Homo sapiens: one gene and its partners. The protein of the gene in region 1 purifies or fractionates together with the protein of each later gene. This does not show direct contact. Each region holds a gene or a part of one and is shown in the gene's direction. Other genes may lie near its edges. The genes, in order: FAM117B, DYRK1A, DCAF7 and FNTB.

Region 1 (6,588 bases):
TCTACTTGGAACACACATCTTTTTGGTGTCCACTCCCCATCCGCTGTTTACTCATTCTTCAAAACCCAGCTCAGAGGGTTACTACCAAACCCTCCCTCTTCCTACAGGCCACAGGTTATCCACCCCCTTGTGCTACCTGTAAACCTTTTTATAAACCTCTGTAATCATGCCTGTTAGATTCTCTTGTGGCGGTCTTAACCTCTTCTGTGCTGTGGACAGCTTTGGCAGTCTGTGTGGTAAAGCTTGTGGATCCCTTCTCTGAATAATGTTTTAAATGCATCATATACACAAGATTATAAAGGAAGCTAGTTATGTTGAAACACAGCTCTGTCCCCATCACTCCTCACCCCACAAGAACTATAAATTTAGTCCACCTCCTCCTTGTGGATTGTTTCAACTTTGTATCCTCAGAATTTAGTGAACACTTGCATTTTTATTGAACTGATTTAGATTTTTTGTGTGTGTGTGAGACAGGGTCTTGCTCTGCTGTCCAGGCTGGAGTGCAGTGGCCCGATTATGGCTCAGTACAACCTCCACCTCCCAGGGCCAAGCTATCCTCCCACCTCAGCCTCCCAGGTAGCAGGGACTACAGGTGCATGCCGTCAGACTAGATTATTTTTTTTTTTAAGGTTTTTATAAAGACGAGGTCTCACTATGTTGCCCAGGCTGGTCTGGAACTCCTGGGTTCAAGTAAGCCTCCCCGCTCAGACTCCCAAAGTGCTGAAATTACAGGTGTGAACCACCATGGCTGGCTGATTTAGATTTTTATTGTCATTGGAAGAGATGAGAATCAACCTAAGTCTTGATTTATTTAGGTTCTCCCACCTTAGTTCTGTGGCATTTCTGTGTTGCTTTAACAATGTAGTTTTTTTATACTTTTAATTTTCATGAAATACCATTAATACCAATATCTTTTTCAACAATTTGGGTTAATTTTCAGGAGGACCTAGGAAAAGGGAAGGATTTGGCTTTAATAAAAAGCTTTCAAAGCAAAGGAGTTTTCATTTTGATTTCACATTTACATTATATTGCTCAGAAAACTATCAGGGTTAACTCAAAGAATTGTTTCCATCAAAGAGATTTTTACAAGCACTTGAAGAGAAAAGCCAGGCCTACCATAGTTTTAGTCATGCAGTGGTGGAACTTAGCAAAAGACGGACATTGTATATCTTTAATTTCCTTGCTGTCTCCTTCCAGTATACTATAGACCTCGGAAAAATCATGGCAGTGGAATATACCATACATAAAGGCATACATGTCTTTAAACATCTAGATTTTCTTTTGCTATAGGAAATTCATTATTCCCTTGACCGTCTTAGCTCATCATTGACATGCAGTGCTCATCGGGCTGAGCCACCTGCATGGTAATGGGGCTGTCAAGGGAACTGAAAGCAGCAATGATGATGGGGGCTTCTTGCATTCTAAGATACATATGTTGAATCATATGTCAGATAGCACTTTGGTCCTTTATGTTTGAAGGTGGGGGACAGAGCTTGAGTTTTATATTCCTTTTCTGTGATGTAAGTTAACTGTTTTTAAAAAATAAAAGAGCTTGTTTCCAAGCTTTTTTTTTTTTTTATTTTTTAAGTTCAGTGACTTAAAAGCATTGGGTTGTCTGTTCTATGTCTAGGCCAAAACAGCTTCATGAAATCCCAGCCTTTTATTGTCCTGACAAAAACAAGGTGAATTTCATTCCTAAAAGTGGATCTGCTTTCTGCCTCGTCAGCATCCTCAAGCCACTCCTTCCTACCCCGGATCTTACACTCAAGGGCTCTGGCCACAGCCTGACAGTCACCACTGGCATGACAACCACTCTGCTGCAGCCTATTGCTGTGGCCTCCCTGTCTACAAACACAGAGCAAGACCGAGTCTCTCGAGGAACAAGTACAGTCATGCCATCAGCTTCTCTACTCCCACCACCAGAACCAATTGAGGAAGCTGAAGGATAGGTCACAGTGCAACGTGGCTGTTGTTCTGGGAAATTGGGAACCTCCTCAGATCACTGGATTCTGATGGCATCGTGCGCTTCTGGTCGGCTGTGATGTGCTCCAGCTTTCCAGTGACATGTGACGGCGAGGCTTCTGGAAGAAAGGATCCCCCGTGACGGCTCTGCCCCACTTGTGAACGCCAACCCTCAGTGCTTAGCCTGCTTTTTATCAAAGCACTGATTGAAACAAGAAAGGTCTCATTCTTTACCTTTGGAGAGACAATATCACGTTTTTGTTTTCGAATTAGACTTCTTTAAAACACACACACACACACACACACACACACACACACACACACACACACCCCTGATCCTTGCCAACATGATTCCTAAAGGGAGATGTGACTGATGCTGCAAGAACCATCTTTTCTATGAAAATGACTATTTTATAATATACCAATGTTACATTTTCTGAAACGTAGCAAACAGGATATTCAAAAGATTCTTTGGTGGCCTCTGTTTCTTGTTCCCTTTCTAGATGTGTGCTTTTCTCAGCTGTTTTCAGCTTTGGGACCAAAGGGATTGTTGACGTTTTCCCAGCAATCTTAATCTCATGACTATGTTCTTCTCCCAAACAAGGATTGATAGGTAAATGCATTGAACAAGTATATATAAAAAGAGATTAAAAAGCAATATTCGTACATTATGTGATTTATGTTTTTGATGTCAAAAGTTTGTGCTTTGGGTGAAATATTTGTATAACTGCTGTTTTCTTCACTACTCCTGTACACATTTCACCATGTGGTCAGAAAAGTTGTAGTCTGAAGACAAGTGCTTTAATATGTTCTCACCCATATTGGAACTTGATTTAAAAGTCAGTGAGCCAAAAGGAAGCTATCCAGCGTTGATTGCTAGCTAAGAGTAAGGAGCCCCTTTGGTTTTCTGTGATATATATATATATCACACGCTCTCCCTCCTTTACCACAGGTGTCATTCTACCTTTAATCATCACTGTATCATAGCCCCAAAGAGATCCTGAAATGGCTGTGCATGGATTTCCTCCTTTGCCCTTGTGATGTTGTTGTCTTGTGGATTTGGTTGGGCTAGTAGTTTGCCAGGAGTGTAATCCAGTGGATAGTGATCCAAACTGTAGCCGCAGAATCCTGTGACTGACATTTTTCTTTGTGGTGGTGGTTGGCCCTGAGATTTGTTGCCTACAGATTTTGCTAATTTACCCCCCTAACGCTTCACATAGTGGGGAAAATACACAAGAAGAACTTGAGTATGAACGATAAGCACCTTTGAAAACTCCATACAGTTTTGGATTAGGGCTCATCCTAATATAAATCACTGCCAGTATCACATGACATCAGTATGTGATTTCTGGGTATGTGGTAGTGAGATTAAGGAGCAGCTTTTTTTTTTTTTTTTTTTTGAGACGGAGTTTCACTCTTGTTGCCCAGGCTGGAGTGCAATGGCGCAATCTCGGCTCACTGCGACCTCTGTCTCCCAGGTTCAAGCAGTTCTCCTGCCTCAGCCTCCCAAGTAGCTGGGATTACAGGCATGCACCACCACACCCAGCTAATTTTGTATTTTTAGTATATATGGGGTTTCACCATGTTGGTCAGGCTGTTCTTGAACTCCTGGCCTCAGGTGATCTGCTCGTCTTGGCCTCCCAAAGTGCTGGGATTACAGGTGTGAGCCACCACGCCCATCCAGGAGCAGCTCTTTTTTTAAAAGTGAGTTTCAGCAAACAGTATTGAATAAAAGCATCCTTTTCATATCTTCATATACTACTTTATGATGCAATAATTTACTGTTCCTATACATATTATAAGGTAGAAAAAAGTTTTTAAATCCTTATAAAGAGGATGCAGTTTAGAAGGTTAATATGTCAGCTTACCCAGACATATTCTATCAAGGAAAACCTAGTGGTAGCAATAAATCTTTGGAAAGGACTTCTTATACTCATGTACCTTTAAAACATCTAAGCAATTTAAAATAATCCCTGTTGAGTTTAAATTCGAGATGCATTTAGGTAAATTGGATAAATTCAACATTTGAATAAATCCGTCAGGTTTTAGATGGTGGGATTGATGAACTTTGGTACTTTCTCAATCCAAAACTAATTTATTTGGAACTAGTACGTTATGGCTTCTCAGTCATGAAAAGCTCAGTTATTTGGGGTCTACATTTTCTCACTGAGAGCCTTGATATTTTGCCTTCTTTGTTATGCATTATAACTTGACTGTATCACCACTGAGTATCTGCTGTATCAGAAGTTCAGAAGAAAAGGTAAAACTGAAATCAGAATGGGGGTAGAGGAAGTTAAAAACAAGTTATTTAAAAAGAACTCTTGGTTTTTGGATGACTTGAATTCTGTTAAATCTGTGTTCTTGGCCTTGCACTTCCGTTCCTCTTCCATCTCTATCCCTGCTAGTCACAATGGCATTTTAGAACTAGAATGCCACTCTGTAGAGGTTTTCCCTTTTGCTCTGTTGTGCCTATTTGTCTAATTCATATCTTTCTGTGGAGTTTCATATGTCCTTAATCTAAAGTAACTTAAAATTGGAATGGAAGAACAAGTTTCAGAATTATTTACAGTCTTATACATAGAACTTCTAGTGTAATGTTTGGTTGTAAGGAGAATGTGAATTTGCAGGTAAATGAATTGTATGGCAACCAGACAGATCCCTGGGGTTTGGGAGAAATAGAGCTTGAGATTTGAAAAAAAGGTACAAGGTACAAAACAACTCTAACTGCCAGTGCCAAAGGGCTAATTTTTAAGCATGTAAGCTTTACCACAGTCTTGAAAAAAATATTAACCATAGGTTCATTCAGCTGTTTTATTTAACCCTTAGTTCCCTGGTGGTTGATTTTTTTTTTAAATGGGTCTCCAGCTTTCCAGTGAAATGTGACACTCTCAATAGAATGCATAATGTTGGTTTCTAAAGTTACACTCCATAATTATTGTTATTCTGTAGAAAACTGTACAGAAGGTAAATAGAATAGCTTCAATGGGAATATAATTTAAATTTTTTTAATTTTATAAAAATTTATTTCCATTGCATTAAAAGAAATGGGTAGCATGTGTCTTTCAGAGAAAGGAGCTATTTGGTTATTCACTTTGTCAATCTTAGGTTTTTTTAAATCTTTAAACAATTTCTTCTTTGTGATGATAAAAATAATATAAATTTACTGTTTCTGATCATGACTGAGTCTATTACTTGTCATGGCTTTTGTACGCAACTGTGTTTTAAAAATACCGGTTTTGCCTCTTTGGTTACATGTGGTGAGCATGGATGTCAAGATTATTTTTCAACTAGATTATTCAATTTGTTTTATATTTCTTATACTTAATACTTATGACTACAGTCCAAATCAGTCTTTTAGAAGGTGCTCTTGCTAACTGTGGAATATTTGACGACATGAAAGTCCTTTTTCTTTGCTTTCAGTGGTTGGCTTTCACTGAAAGAAAGTGTAAAAAAAGTCAGAATTTATAGCTTTCACTATGTCCAAGACTAGGACTGGGTTATAAAGATTTTCTTTTGTGAAGGAAAATAAAAGAAAATTTGCCACTACTGCATTTACTTTACTATTGTAAACTTAAGATTCATTCCTTAGTCTTTGGAATTTTGATGTCTCAAAACCAGATGAGTGGAAGTGCTGAATTTGCAAAATAAAGCTAAGAATGCTTAACTCTGCACTTTAAGTTCTACTCTGACCAAATTGAAGATGAGCAGAGCAGCCCTGAACAGCATTTTGTTTATACAGTCTTGTTTAAGAATAGAATTTTTTTAACTCTTCATTTTTTGTCTCTGTGGAAGCTGTGTAACTCTTTTTAAAATGCAATTTAAAACATTTTGTTATTCTAACAATTCTCTCAAAAAACAGCATTTCCAATGGTAATCGGTATTGTTACGCTGTACTTATGTATTCCCTGTACCTGAACACTTGTTGCTGCCTCACAAGAAAATAGAACTTTTATGTTAAAAATAAAGTCTGTTCTTCTTGAGTTTTTTTCTGTGAATTTTTATGAATATTGTCCAAATTCAAGTTACATTTCTTTTTGGACTGGTTATTTATCTAGCTTTTAAGCGGTACATTGTTTTTCTCAGACTAATAGAAAAATTTGTTTGTGTTCAGCAGCAAGTTCCTTGCTACCCCTCACCTGCCCTAGAACTGAAAGTACCTGCTCTTTGGGGTAAGTGCTAGGCACACATTAAAATATAAGCAGCACAGAGAGATACCCACGCGTGAGGAATTCACTGCTTCAGAGTTTTGTTAGAGGTAACTTAGCTGGGGCAGTCACTTACATTCATTATAAAGTACATGAGAGGAGTTTTTTTGTTTTAATTCTTGGTAATTCAGCCATATTCTTCCTTTGTGACAGTGGCTTATATATGCAAGACAGTCGTTGGGTTTCAGGGGACAGTTGTTGAGTTTTGGGGATTTTGTCTGTATCCACACAGCAGAGCTGGTCAGAAGGCTACACTGTAATAACTTAGAAAGCAGGGACACATTTTAATGACATAAGTCACCACAGTAATTTGGTCACCAAATTAATTTTTTTTTGTTTTTGAGACAGAGTCTCTGCTGTGTTGCCCAGGGTGGAGTACAGTGGCACAGTCACTCAGCTCACTGCAGCCTCAAGCTCCTGG
Region 2 (3,385 bases), on another chromosome or scaffold:
CTGCCCATTGCAGATTAGGCATCAGCAAGGTACCCTCCTGTTTTTGTATGGCTCACCAAACTAAGGGTGATTTTCACATTTTACATGGCTGAAAAACATCAAATGATATTTCAGGACATAGGGAAATTATATGACATTTGAATTTCAGTGTCCATAAATGAAGTTTTATTGGAACATAACCACATTCATTTGCAAGTTGTCCACGGCCACTTTGGTGCTACTGTGGCAGAATTGAGTAGTTGCTGCAGAGACCGTATGATGAGAATATGTGGCATTCTCATCATTTTGCCCTGCCGCTCTGTGCAATGTAAATTGCAGTGACACAGTTATAACTCAGCAGCATTTTGAATGCCACTTGTATTCCCATGCTACAACATTTTATTTTTTATTACCAATATATACAAGAAAAGTGGATTTCAAATATCATTGTGCTTTTAAGGTACAATGGAGTATGAATTGTTACTGAATTAGGCAGCAAAGTGCAATGACATGGTAGCTGTCCTAAGGAACACAATACAACCAGGTGCAGTGGCTCATGCCTGTAATCCCAACGATTTGGGTGGCTGAGGTGGGAGAATCACTTGAACCCAGGATTTGGAGACCAGCTTGGGTGGTATAGTGAGACCCCCCATCTCCACAAAAAGTAAAAAAAAACCAAAATACATGTTGTTACTTCCCATCTTAGCACTCATCAAGATATTTCTAATTCACAAGAAAGCAATGGTCAGAAAAATTAGAAAATTTAAAATTGAATATCTCATCACAGAATTTATTCACAAAAATAAAAAATGAAAATGAAGCTACAACCAAAGTAAGTTTCAGATGGCTCATTTGTTAGCCAAGCAAGGAAAGTCACTTATGGTGAATTAATTAAATCATGCTTGATTACTGCAGCTGAAGAAACATGCTCAGAGAAAGTAAACTTGTTTATTGGCCTTTCCACGACAACAGTTGCTCAAAGAGTTGACATTAGGAATGACATCAGTAGTCGACTAAAAAGGCAAATGGTTTTGAGTGGTTTCCCCTGACTCTCATGACAGGGGTCACCATATGTTATGCACACTGCTCCGCTATTGCTCTTTATTTGAGGAGCCAGTACCAAGTTGGAAGTAACTGAAGAATTGGCCTCTATCAATAGTCTTATGTGGAACAACTACTGGCAAAAGTATTTTCAAAGCTGAGAAAACTGGTCAGGTGTGGCGGCTCATGCCTATAGTCCCAACACTTTGGGAGGCCAAGGTGGGCAGATCACCTGAGGTCAGGAGTTTGAGACCTGCCTGGCCAACATGGTGAAACTACATCTCTACTAAAAGTACAAAAATTAGCCGGGCATGATGGCATGCACTGGTAATTCCAGCTACTCAGGAGGCTGAGGCAGGAGAATCGCTTGAACCCAGGAGGTGGAGGTTGCAGTGAGCTGAGATTGCACCACTGTACTCCAGCCTGGATGACAGAGTGAGAACATTGTCTCAAAACAAAAAGTTGAGAAAACGAATTCAGTACACCCTGAAGTGGAATCTGCTAAGATGTGTTATGACTGTTGGTAGTGGAAATATATGTGTGTATTAGTCCATTTTCATACTGCTATAAAGAAAAGCCTGAGACTGGGTAATTTATAAAGAAAAAGAGGTTTAATGGACTCACAGTCCCGCATGGTTGGGGAGGCCTCACAATCGTTGTGGAAGGTAAAGGAGAAGCCAAGGCAAGTCTTAGGTGGCGGCAAGCAAGAGAGTGTGTGCAGGGGAACTGCCCTTTATAAAACCATCAGATCTCATGAGACTTACTCACTATTATGAGAACAGCATGGTAAAATCCTGCCTCCATGATTCAGTTACCTCCCACTGGGTCCTACCCATGACACGTGGGGATTATGGGGGCTACAATTCAATGAGATTTGGGTGGGGACACAGCTAACTCATATCAGTGTGGAATAGAAAATGGCTCAGTTGGACAACTTACAAAGCTTGTAATAATATAAGGTGTTAAAGCCTATAGATTATTCATTGTATTATTTAAGTCAACAGATACTTTGTGAGAAATATTTGAATCTATCATGCATTATTGAACCAGTATTGTCAATAGTGAACTTCCTTTAGCTCTTGTGGACTTCACTATCAACAGCTCTCATGAATTTTTGTCAGAAATATTAGCTGAATATCCCGACATGGCCTGTAATACAGCAGTTCAATGGTTTAGTAGTGGTAAAGTTTCATTTAAGTTTTGAGCTCAGGACAAAGATTGAAATTTTTCTGAATGAGAACTGCCCCGAACCACCGTTACTAAACACTGAATAGTTTTGGAAATTCACTTTTGCTGCAGACTTGATAGTGTTTCTTAAGGAATTCAGCCTAAACCACAAGATAAAAACAGTGTTTATGTGAAACTCCTACTGTGTTAAGTGATTTCAAGAAGAACTATTGTTTGAATCACAACTAATGTTACTGCTTTAAGCTCTTCCCATGTTGTTAAAAGTTAAAAAAAGAAGAGCTCCATTCCCACACACATTTGCCACAGATACATTATCTGAGCCCAAACTACAGTTTGAGCAGTGTGTTAGGGACCTCAATGCAAACCCAAAAGAAATTTTTATATTTCAGAATCCATTGATCTGCATTTGAGAAGTGATTAATGTGTTGAAAGGCAACTATCTAAAGAAAAATTTAATAGAGTCTAATAGAATCTTATAAAAATGTATAAATGTGTTTTATGTAATAAATATGCTAAGCTAAACATCTTATGCTCATGAGCTGGGTGCAGTGGCTCACACTTGTAATCCCAGCACTTTGGGGGTCTGAAATGGGAGGATCACTTCAGCCTAGGAGTTCAAGACCAGCCTGGGCAACATGGTGAAACCCTGTCTCTACAAAAAAAAAAAAAGTACAAAAATTAGCCTCGCTTGGTGGCACATGCCTGTGGTCCCAGCTACTTGGGAGATGGAGGTGGGAGCATCATCCGAGCCTGGGAGGCAGAGGTTGCAGTGAGCTGAGGTCACACCACTGCTCTCCAGCCTGGGTGACAGAGCAAGACCCTGTCTCAAAAAAAAAAAAAAAATGCTCATGGACATAGTAGTGTTGGGAAGGTACCTATCTGTGTGAAGACATGTTCAAAGATGAACTGTGTCACATCTCATTCCAAATCAGCATTAACAGATAAATATATGCAAATATGCAATTGGTTTTGACGATTCACAACACTAGCTCTGAATCTCAATTAGGGAAATGTTATTCCCCCAAAAGATTTCCAATTCTTATTGGTAGACCGGCGTTACCAGAAAATTGTACTCTATTGTTATCCTTGAATTTCATCAATTAAGATTTTTTTGGAAAATATTTTTGGAAATATTTATTCTCTTCTTATAGAAAACACCTATTCAATATTTTAGATT
Region 3 (7,515 bases), on another chromosome or scaffold:
GAGGTGGCCGGGTGCAGTGGCTCGCCTGTAATCCCAGCACTTTGGGAGGCCGAGGCGGGCGGATCAGACCATCCTGGCTAACACGGTGAAACCCCACCTCTACTAAAATTAAAAAAGAAAAAAAATAGCCGGGCGTGGTGGCAGGCGCCTGTAATCCCAGCTACTGGGGAGGCTGAGGCAGGAGAATGGCATGAACCCGGGAGGTGGAGGTTGCAGGGAGCCGAGGCCGCACCACTGCACTCCAGCCTGGGTGACAGAGTGAGACTCCAACTCAAAAAAAAAAAAAAAAAAGATCTTGGGGAGGCAGACAGCCCCCCAGATGGGCCTCTCCTAAAGTAGCTACAAACTGCTGATCCAGGTGACCCAGGATGGCGTGGGTGAAGAAGCTCACGACTTTTCCCAGCCTCCTCCAGGGCTCCATTTAAACAGCAAGCCTGGTGCAGGGTGGGAGAGTCTCAGGTGTGGAGGCAGCTTACAGGATTGAGGGGGCAGTGAAGAAAGAGGTTTCTGATCTACATGAGTACCTTGCTCTGAGCCTCCCAGCTCAGAACCCTCCAGCACCTCATGGCTCAGCACCAAGGCCCGGGGTTGGTCAGAACTCTTACCATGAGCCTCTGACCTGGCTGGAGATGGAGGTATGTTCTGTGGCAGACATGTCAGGACAGTCCTCCAGCCCTCTGCTCCTGATGGTTCTGTGACATTGGGTCTCTTGAGGGCAGTGGAGTGTCACACAGCTAATAAAGTACACATTTCATGTTGGACTGGGTGTGTAACTTATCTGAAGGTCATTACGTCTTTGACTGTGCTGTGGCTTTCTCCAAACCCTTCTTGTAAGGAGCTGCAGACTTACCCTCCACCATATCCAGTGTGTTGGGGACCTGAAGGTGGTTCTGCTGGGCCCAGAGGCTCCTGGAGCCTGGGGCTGTTAGGCCGAGGTGAAGGGAAGCAGAGGCACTGGCTTGGTGGCCCTAGGGGATCATGACAACAGCCAACACTTCGGTAGCACTCGCCCCGTACCAGGCACTGTGCTGACAGCTCTGCAGATACTTGTTCATCTAATCCTCAAAACAACCCCAACGGGTTGGTATTATTATCCCCATTTTACAGATGTGGGATCAGTAGCAGAGAGACTAAGACACCCAAACATGAGGGGGATTTCTGAGGTGCAGGTACTGTTCTGTTTCCTGATCTAGGTGCTGGTTACAGGTGTTCAGGTTGCGAAAGAGTGTGCTTCTGTGTGTAAATTATACCTCAGTTAAAAAGAAAATAAAAATAAAAAAAGAGGCCAGGTGTAGTGGCTCATGCCTGTAATCCCAGGGCTTTGGGAGGAGGATGAGGCAGGAGGACTGCTTGAGGCCAGGAGTCCAAGGTTACAGTAAGCCGTGATTGCATCACTGAACTCACACCCTGGGCAAGGGAATAAGACCCTGTCTCAAAATGAAAATTTTAAAAATCATCCCCGTGCCCAACACGGGGCATTTGTATTGACCCATTTCTACCCAAATAGCAGCGATTTGAGAGCCACCACCATCTATTTTAAAAACACAAGAAACCCTTCTTTAACATCGTTCTTTTTTCTTTTCTCATAATTCCCACTTATTCCTCCCATAGTTTTATCCTACATGTAATTTATTGGTATGCTTCAAAGCCTAATATTGATCACCCTATCATATGTTTGCAACACAAATATGTATACAGGCTGGGTGCAGTGGCTCACTCATGCCTGTAATCCCAACACTTTGGGAGGCTGAGGCTGGAAGATTGCTTGAGCCAGGAATTCAAGACCAGCCTGGGCAGCATAGCTCAACCTGGTCTCTACAAAACAATTTTTTTTTAATTAGCCAAGCATTGTGATGCGCACCTGTAGTCCCAGGTACTACAGGGCTTGCTGGGAGGCTTGGGTGGGAGAGTCACTTGAACCTAAGAGGTCAAGACTGCAGTAAGCCATGTTCATGCAACTGTACTCCAGCCCGGGTAACAGAGCAAGACTCGGTCTCTTAAAAAAAAAAAAAAAAGTGGCTGGGCGCAGTGGCTCACACCTGTAATCCCAGCACTTTGGGAGGCTGAGGTGGGCAGATCACGAGGTCAGGAGATCAAGACCATCCTGGCTAACAGGGTGAAACCCCATCTCTACTAAAAATACAAAAAAAATAGCCAGGCGTGGTGGCAGGTGCCTGTAGTCCCAGCTACTCGGGAGGCTGAGGCAGGAGAATGGCGTGAACCCAGGAGGTGGAGCTTGTAGTGAGCCAAGATCGTGCCACTGCACTCCAGCGTGGGCAACAGAGCAAGACTCCGTTTCAAAAAAAAAGTAGGTCGGTCATGGGGTGGCTCATGCCTATAATCCCAGCATTTTGGGAGGCTGAGGTGGGAGGACCAGTTGAACCCAGCCTGGGCAACATAGCAAGATCTTGTCTCTACAAAAAATAAAGGAGGCAGGAGGATTGCTTGAGCCCGGGAGGTCAAGGCTGCAATAAGCACTGTTTGCCCCACTGCACCACCACCTGGATAACAGAGCAAGACCCTGCCTCAAAACGAATGTGTATAAATTAATTGACATTTTAAAATTAATTTTTGTAACCTTAATAAGGCTTTAAGGGTTACATCTATTAGTAGTACAGTTGTTCAAAACAACATAAATATATATTCAATTTTCTAATAAAAACTAAAATTTTATTGGAAATATACGTCATAAAAGAGAAAATTTCCTCCCCCCGTTAGTTCCTATATCTGTGGATAAATATCATTATTTTTTATTAGAATAAGACAAGGTACCGCGAATTTTGTACGTCTTTTTCTTTCCTTTTTAAATTTGTTTTTAAACTTTCCTCCTTACAGGGGATTTCCTTTAGCTGGGCATGGTGGCGGGCGCCTGTAATCCCAGCTACTCAGGAGGCTGAAGCAAGAGAATCACTTGAACCCTAAAGGCAGAGGTTGCAGTGAGCCGAGATAGTGCCACTGCACTACAGCCCGGGCGACAGAGTGAGACTCCATCTCAAAAATAAAATAAAATTAAAAAAAAAAGAGGATTTCTTGGCCAGATGCGGTGGCTCACGCCTGTAATCCCAACACTTTGGGAGGCCGAGGCTGGAAGATCATTTGAGGTCAGGAGTTCGACACCAGAATGGCCAACATGGTGAAACCCCATCTCTACTAAAAATACAAAAATTAGCTGGCTGTGGTGGTGCACCCCTGTAATCTCAGCTACTCGGGAGGCTGAAGCAGGAGAATCACTTGAACCTGGGAGGTGGAAAAATCATTTATCATTAAAAATTATATTTAGTGCCCAGAATGGTGGCTCAAGCCTGTAATCCCAGTACTTTAGGATGCTGATGTGGGAGGATCGCTTGAGCCCAGGAGTTCGAGATCAGCCTGGGCAACATGGAGAGATCTCATCTCTACAAATAATAATTTAAAAATAGCTAGGTGTGGTGGCAAATGTCTGTGGTTCCAGCTACTCCAGAGGCTAAAGTGGGGGAATCGTTTGAACCTAGGCAGTCCAGGCTACAGTGAGCCCTTATCACACCAGTGCACTCCAGCCTGGGTGACAGGGCAAGACCCTGTCTTTAAAAAAAAAAAAAAAAAGTATTTAATGTTATCATCCAACAATTCAATACAAACCTCCTTCAATTTTGATGAAAGCTGAGAATTGGAAATAATTTATATAAAGGTGTCATTTGGTCTCTGGCCCTTCCCCTTTTCCAACTCACAGGCACAGATACCTTTGGGGCTGGATTAGCATTTGCGTTGGGATCCACGGCGGGAAGGGTACAGGATGGGAACTGACAAAAACAGAGCCAAGCTGGTCGGGTCGGTGCCTACCCCAGAATTCGGGGACATTTCTAGATCCTGCAGGAAAGCGCGGGAGGGCCTGACTCAAGCTGGCCTGGCCCTGAGCGCATCTGCGCGCCCGAAGCCTGTCCCTGAGGCACGGAGAGAGCAGCTTTCGGGTTAAAAGGGCCCTGGGAAGAGATGGGGCGGGAAGGTGGTACCCGTTGGGCGCAGGCCAGGCTGCCAGGCCGCAGGGCTCTGTCCCGCGAAAGTCAGTAGGTCTTCCACTAAGGCAGAATTGTACTTTTACTCGACAGCGTGGAGAGGCCGCTCAGAACAGCAGCAGCGGAGGGGAAGTCAGCGCAGGTCACAGACGGTTTCACTCTCAGAGACTTGGCCTAGAACTTGGAGGCCCGCTGCTACAGCACGCTCGCCTCCAGGCCACCCACGCCCCCACCACCCGCACTGAGCCGTTATCTGCCTGACTGACATCTTGGCCAACCAATGACCTTTGGGGCTGCCAAAGCGCCTGCCTCCGAGAGTTGGGCGGGGCGAGTAGTTGCAATGACAAACATTTAACCCAATAGCGAGGAGATTTCAGACGCTACGGCCGCAATAACCAATGACAAGAAAGAATCCTTTCGAAAGGACGTGTCAGGCAACCAACGGCCGGTGCCGCTGCGGGGGTCCGGCGGCTTCCGTTCCGAGAGGGCGGGGCGGCGTCCCAAAACGGAAGGTGGTTGTCGTCCGTTCCCAAGCTGGTTTGAAACTAGGGGTCGGGCTCGGCCGTCGTCGTTGTTTGTCGCCGCATCCCCGCTTCCGGGTTAGGCCGTTCCTGCCCGCCCCCTCCTCTCCTCCCTTCGGACCCATAGATCTCAGGCTCGGCTCCCCGCCCGCCGCAGCCCACTGTTGACCCGGCCCGTACTGCGGCCCCGTGGCCACCATGTCCCTGCACGGCAAACGGAAGGAGATCTACAAGTATGAAGCGCCCTGGACAGTCTACGCGATGAACTGGAGTGTGCGGCCCGATAAGCGCTTTCGCTTGGCGCTGGGCAGCTTCGTGGAGGAGTACAACAACAAGGTGGGCCGGGCAGGGGCTCGGAACCCAGCTGGCGGGGAGCGGGCCCCGGGAGCGCCCTTTCCGGGCCGGAGCCCAGGCCTCAGAACCCTCTTGCGGACTCGCCCTAGGGCCACGGAGCGGTTCCTCTGTCTGGCCCTGTGCTGAAGGTTTCGTACTCGTTGTCTGTCTCCTTTAATCCAGGCAGCATTCTTGTGTAGTCGGCAGTGTAGTGGGGAAACTGAGGCACGGTTTTGTGACTTGCCTGGGTCAGGCAGCTATTTCGGGGTGGAAACAGGTCTTAAAACCGGGTTTACGCCCCAAAGATACTCCATTTATTCATCCCGTGCTCTCCACTCCTGCCGCATTGCTTTCGTTGGTGGGCGGGGAAGGGAAGAGAGAGTGATAGCTGTGAAGGAAAATGCAGGCGCTTCTATTGGTGGTCGTGCACTCCTGGCCACACTAGATTTCTATTAAGACGATCTATTGTACAAGCTTCCCCGCCCCCTACTCCCACCCCCCCCGGGTACTCATGGATCCTAGCCCTTCTGCCAGAATTACTGTTGCTCTTGCTTCCTGATATCCATTCTCTCTAAAGCAATCTCTTTGGAAATCTTGGCCTGTGGCATGATCCCGCCGTTGTTTCCTGAACACAGAAGGATGACAGGGCCTTATCTCTTGGCTTGTTTCGTGCTAGTACAGTTGTGTGACCTTTAGTAGTAAGTCTTGCTGGACATACATCAATTTGAGAATCCTTTATAGAAGCACGGTGTAGTAGGGGAGCTTTTAAACTGGCATTGCAACAAACTCATTTTTGAAAGTTGAATAAGTCAGTTGGAAGAATTTTCTTTCTTCCTTTTACTCAAAGTTGTGAATGATAGCGATCAGAGCAACTGAAAGCTGTGGCTAGTGATATTTAAAGCCACTACTCCTGCTTTATGCCATGAACATCAGATTTAAGAAGAGTAAAACTGGCCGGGCGCGGTGGCTCACGCCTGTAATCCCAGGACTTTGGGAGGCCGAGGCGGGCGGATTACCTGAGCTCAGGAGTTCGCGACCAGCCTGGGTAACACGGTGAAACCCCGTCTCTACTAAAATACAAAAAAAAAAAAAAAAAAAAAAAAAAAAAAAAAAAAAAAAGCCGGGCGTAGCTTAGTGCGCCTGTAGTCCCAGCTACTCGGAAGTCTGAGGCTGGAGAATTGCTTGAACCTGGGAGGCGGAGGTTGCAGTGAGCCGAGATGGCGCCACTGCACTCCAGCCTGGGCGACAGAGTGAGACTCTGTCTCAGAAAAAAAAAGAAGAATAAAACTGTTCAGTGACAAGGCTGATGCAGGGGGGAAGAAACCAGGTGGTCCTGTCTGGTTATTGACTAGCTGTGAGATGTTGCACAGGCCTGTTTTATTATCTGTGACCCACAGTTTGTACGGAAGGGGTTCTGGTTTACATGTGAGGGTCTTGTAAAAAAGAAATTTGAACATTTCACAGTTTGTTTACAGTTTTTCAGGAGCACATTTGTTTCTCTAGAGTAGGTCCTCTTTGGAGTCCACTTTGAGAAGCTGATGAAAGCTATGGATTCTCATTGTCCAGACATTACACATACATGAACAATTTACAAACAAATCCAAGGAATATGCACTGATCTTTAAGTCCACCCATTGCCCGGGCGAGATAGAGCTTTCTTTCCTCTGTTGCTTCTTTCTTCCTTATGGCCCATAGTGGACAGCAGAACTGGAAATGGGATTCACGATTCTGATGTGGACACCGTGTTAATAAAATTAAGACCACTAGAACTATTGTTTAAAGATACACGTGGAAAATAAAAAAGTATGTCTTTCAAAGGGCTTAAGTCTTTTTACACAAATTAATGTTTTTTCTTGTAAGTTTTTCCAGGGTCGTTGGGTAAGCAATAGTTACTCCTATTCCTCAGAGAGGAGAAACTGAGCCACAGTTAGGCTGCTTGGTAGGATCAGTGGAGTAGTCAAACTGCTGTTGCAGGAACTCTACCCCAGTTTGTCCTTTCATTTAGCAACTATCTGGAGCTTCCTCTTTGTGACAGGCACACAGGTAGCATGGCTTAGCAGTGAAATGCAAACTAATAACCCCACTATCAACAGCATTAGCAGTTAACTATATCTTAACTCACATGATGTAGGCAATGCGCTGTCTTAAAATCATTTTTGTGCCTCCACCTATCAGTAGATCAGGGTTCTTAAATTCTGTGTGCCATGGTCATCTGATACCAATAGACCCCTTCTCATAGTTATGTTTTCAAATGCATAAAACACATAGAATTACAAAAGAAACCACTTATGTTGCACTACAGATATAAACAACATGTTTTTTAAAGTGGTGATGTAGTCATATGTACTTTTAATAAATTAACTTATTGATTTACACCATCCACTGTAATTATTAATGTAATTTTGAAATGGTGACAAGGGTAAACAGCATTTCAAGATGCTTAACAACTGTGCTGTGGTGGGAAAAAAAAATTCTCTTGCTGGCAAAGTCACAGACAGTCATACCACTGTGAGCACCTGACCCCATTTGTAATTGAAGGAAACAAAAAAATTTAGCTAGAGGTTAATGGAAATATGGGGATAATTTTCCAATTCAAGTTCACAGACCCCAAGTTAAGAAACCCTGCGAGAGAGAAGTATGTGTAGTGGTTGGTGAGCAGCAAATCCTGC
Region 4 (3,555 bases), on another chromosome or scaffold:
TTAGGGTTGTGGTCCTTTTTTCTTTTTTTTTTTTTTTTGAGACAGAGTCTCGCTGTTGCCCAGGTTAGAGTGCAGTGGCACAATCTTGGCTCACTGCAACCTCCGCCTCCCGGGTTCAAGCAATTCTCCTGCTTCAGCCTCCCAACTAGCTGGGATTACAGACACTCACCATCATGCTCGGCTAATTTTTGTATTTTTGTAGAGACGGGGTTTCACCATCTTGGCCAGGCTGGTCTTGAACTCCTGACCTCGGGTGATCCATCCACCTCGGCCTCCCAAAATGCTGGGATTACAGGCATGAGCCACCGCGTCCGGCCCCCTTTTTCTTGATTATAAATGTAAATACATGTTTATTGTTTTAATAATTGGGATACATAAAATATAAAAAAGAAAATGAAAAACAATCATATCACTATTAATATTTTGGTATGGGTACAATTTTTGCTATTTATATACATCACAGGTACAAATACACTTTTTAAAAAGTTTGAGACCAGGTGTGGTGGCTCACACCTGTAACCCCAGCACTTTGGGAGGCCGAGGCGGGTGGATCACCTGAGGTCAGGAGTTCGAGACCAGCCGGACCAACATGGTGAAACCCTGTCTCTACTAAAAATACAAAAATAATCCCAGCACTTTGGGAGGCCGAGGCGGGCGGATCACGAGGTCAGGAGATCGAGACCATCCCGGCTAAAACGGTGAAACCCCGTCTCTACTAAAAATACAAAAAATTAGCCGGGCGTAGTGGCGGGCGCCTGTAGTCCCAGCTACTTGGGAGGCTGAGGCAGGAGAATGGCGTGAACCCGGGAGGCGGAGCTTGCAGTGAGCCGAGATCCCGCCACTGCACTCCAGCCTGGGCGACAGAGCGAGAGACTCCGTCTCAAAAAAAAAAAAAAAAAATACAAAAATTACCCAGGCGTGGTGGCTCACACCTGTAATCCCAGCTACTCAGGAGGCTGAGGCAGGAGAATTGCTTGAACACAGGAGGCAGAGGTTGCAGTGAGCTAAGATCGTGTCAATGCACTCCAGCCTGGGCAACAGAGCAAGACTCTCTCAAAAAAAAAAAAAAAAAAAAAAAAACAGTTTGAGATAGTATTGTACATACTGTTTTCTCACATAATATGTTGTAAGTATTTGCCTGTATCGTTAAATATTTAAATGCGTGTTTATAATGGCTGTATATTAACCTGTGTCCCATGTACTAGATAGTTTTAGCAAATACACCATTTTTGAACCTTTGGGCTTTGTGTGTATCTCTGATTCCTTATACTAAATTCTTAGAAGTGCCTTTCATGGAGCAAAGGATGTGTTATGTTTTCAAGGACCACCGGGGTGATTAACTGGCACCTTTTCTTCTCTTTGCAGCAGCCCACTCACCCAGTGTACAACATTGGACCAGACAAGGTGATCCAGGCCACTACATACTTTCTACAGAAGCCAGTCCCAGGTTTTGAGGAGCTTAAGGATGAGACATCGGCAGAGCCTGCAACCGACTAGAGGACCTGGGTCCCGGCAGCTCTTTGCTCACCCATCTCCCCAGTCAGACAAGGTTTATACGTTTCAATACATACTGCATTCTGTGCTACACAAGCCTTAGCCTCAGTGGAGCTGTGGTTCTCTTGGTACTTTCTTGTCAAACAAAACCAATGGCTCTGGGTTTGGAGAACACAGTGGCTGGTTTTAAAAATTCTTTCCACACCTGTCAAACCAAAAATCTATCAGCCCACGTGGTGTGGTTGGTGAACAGTGCATGCCAGGAGGAAGCAGTCCCTCCTCACCAGCTCTCCAGCCAGGACGATCACACAGAGATGAATGGCATCTGAGTATTACGGCATCCAGAGCCACTGCTGACTCCCACTTGCACGCCACCATTCAGTCACCAGACTGGGTGCCCTCCGATGGGTGGAATAAGTCTGCTTCATGCCAAGGCTGGGCTTTGGGTCCCACCAAGATGAGTTCTCTGTAAGACTGTGGTGGAGTTGCACCAGGAGGTGCCTCTGCCTCTCGACTTGCACCCTGGTCATTTGTAAGGGAAAAGAGCTGGAGGTGGGGAGAGAAAGATCTCCTTCAGTTGGGAGTCCTTCCACTTCAACACTGGAGAACTGAGCCTTGCATCTCTCCAGGGTCCAAGGCCACGCTTGGTGCACAGGCAAGACTTGCTTCAGCCCCAGGTGTGGTGACTTAGACCTAGGAAACCAATTATGAGTGGAAAGTGACCCTCTAGTTCAACTGTGCCAGAGGAAACAGCCCTCCAGTGCCCACCTGCCTCACTCCTCCCTATCATGTACCGTGAAAACCCCCTCTGATGGCCTCAAGGCAGTGCCTGCAGGCCGAGGCCCTTCTGGGGGTTTCTATCTTTCTTCCACCAGACTCCAAGCCCACTCTCCTCCAAGACTGTGTTGTCTTTTCTCACCAAGAGTATTAACACTACTAAGTCTTTCACCTTAACTTATGACTCAGGATTTATTCACGTCCTGCCCACTCTAGGCTCACAGGAATAAAATCAAGTGCTAGACACACTGGCTGCTACTAAGGCACTAGCCTCTGTAGCTGGTGGTGGCAGCGTGGGGTGCCGCCCAGCGTGCTGGGTCCTGGCAGTGCCTCTGCTGTGCTGCACATTGAGCCCTTTCTCAGTCAGTGGAGTATCAAGTTGGGCCATCTGTCTACTGACCTGGCCTTCATGTAAGCAGCTGTGGGCTGCGGGCAGACAGGAGCTCAGAGATGCAGCATGAGGCGCTTAGAAAAACCTGGCCATTTGCTGCCTCTAATTCCCTTTTGCTTTGCCATATTGGGCTATGTATTACCTCCTTGAAATAATAAAAGAATAACATTTTCTATGATGTCTCTTATTTGTGATCTGTACCAAGAAAATGCCCAATGGTAGGAGCTACTAAAGGTTGCTCAGGGATCGTCAGTCTCCTGTGTGCAGGATTCCAGACTGTTCACATCGGTGGTGACAGAGGAATGACCGAGTTCCATCCTCACATGCCGTCTCCTCCAGTAGAGGAAGCCGTGGGCCTAACAGAGAGTGGGAAGAGATGTTTTCCAAGCTCCCTGGGGTAATTCGGTATGCTATGTCCCAGCCCTCCACACACTGCACTTCATGGTCTGTCTCCGACAGACAGCAAGGACTGGGCCTAGTAGCCCCAGAGCAGGCTGACTTAGCAAGGGTGGGTGGATGTCTGGCCAGAGGCAGGGGCTGTCACAGGGACAGGCTGGAACTCTGTGGCCACTTGGCTTTCCCTTCCTCTGGCGAGAGACCCTCTCCCATGGGAGGCCAAGAACATGGATGTCCTGTGGCCTGACCCTCTTGGAGGGGAGAGAAGATGGTGTCCTTAGAGGGCACCCAAATCCATGTAAATAAGCCAAATGCACATCCAGGAATGTAATTCCTGCCCCCTGTGCTATTTTTGCCCTGTTAACAAAGGTTTGCACTGCAAGGCAACATATTGAAATGCATCCTTTCCATCACTATAACAAAAGGCAAAATCCTCTCAGCACTCGGAGCCTCAAGGTATTGTGAGATTAATTGCAGTAATAATTAATGTGGTTAAT

Evidence for each region.
Region 2: the proteins of FAM117B (region 1) and DYRK1A purify together in Homo sapiens (affinity purification with mass spectrometry; 9 studies listed by BioGRID and IntAct, with this or other methods). This does not show direct contact.
Region 3: the proteins of FAM117B (region 1) and DCAF7 purify together in Homo sapiens (affinity purification with mass spectrometry; 3 studies listed by BioGRID and IntAct, with this or other methods). This does not show direct contact.
Region 4: the proteins of FAM117B (region 1) and FNTB purify together in Homo sapiens (affinity purification with mass spectrometry; 3 studies listed by BioGRID). This does not show direct contact.

Annotation. Positions count from the first base shown.
Region 1 is NC_000002.12:202,763,816-202,770,403, forward strand, and holds the end of FAM117B (protein FAM117B), read left to right. Parts: intron 1-1,630; coding exon 1,631-1,949; 3' UTR 1,950-5,942; downstream 5,943-6,588.
Region 2 is NC_000021.9:37,523,629-37,527,013, forward strand, and holds the end of DYRK1A (dual specificity tyrosine-phosphorylation-regulated kinase 1A), read left to right. Parts: 3' UTR 1-2,730; downstream 2,731-3,385. UniProt on the Homo sapiens protein: Dual-specificity kinase which possesses both serine/threonine and tyrosine kinase activities. Exhibits a substrate preference for proline at position P+1 and arginine at position P-3.
Region 3 is NC_000017.11:63,545,967-63,553,481, forward strand, and holds the start of DCAF7 (DDB1- and CUL4-associated factor 7), read left to right. Parts: upstream 1-4,510; 5' UTR 4,511-4,711; coding exon 4,712-4,849; intron 4,850-7,515. UniProt on the Homo sapiens protein: Involved in craniofacial development. Acts upstream of the EDN1 pathway and is required for formation of the upper jaw equivalent, the palatoquadrate. The activity required for EDN1 pathway function differs between the first and second arches.
Region 4 is NC_000014.9:65,059,816-65,063,370, forward strand, and holds the end of FNTB (protein farnesyltransferase subunit beta), read left to right. Parts: intron 1-1,365; coding exon 1,366-1,497; 3' UTR 1,498-2,835; downstream 2,836-3,555. Other genes in the region: CHURC1-FNTB protein, read left to right, coding at 1,366-1,497. UniProt on the Homo sapiens protein: Essential subunit of the farnesyltransferase complex. Catalyzes the transfer of a farnesyl moiety from farnesyl diphosphate to a cysteine at the fourth position from the C-terminus of several proteins having the C-terminal sequence Cys-aliphatic-aliphatic-X.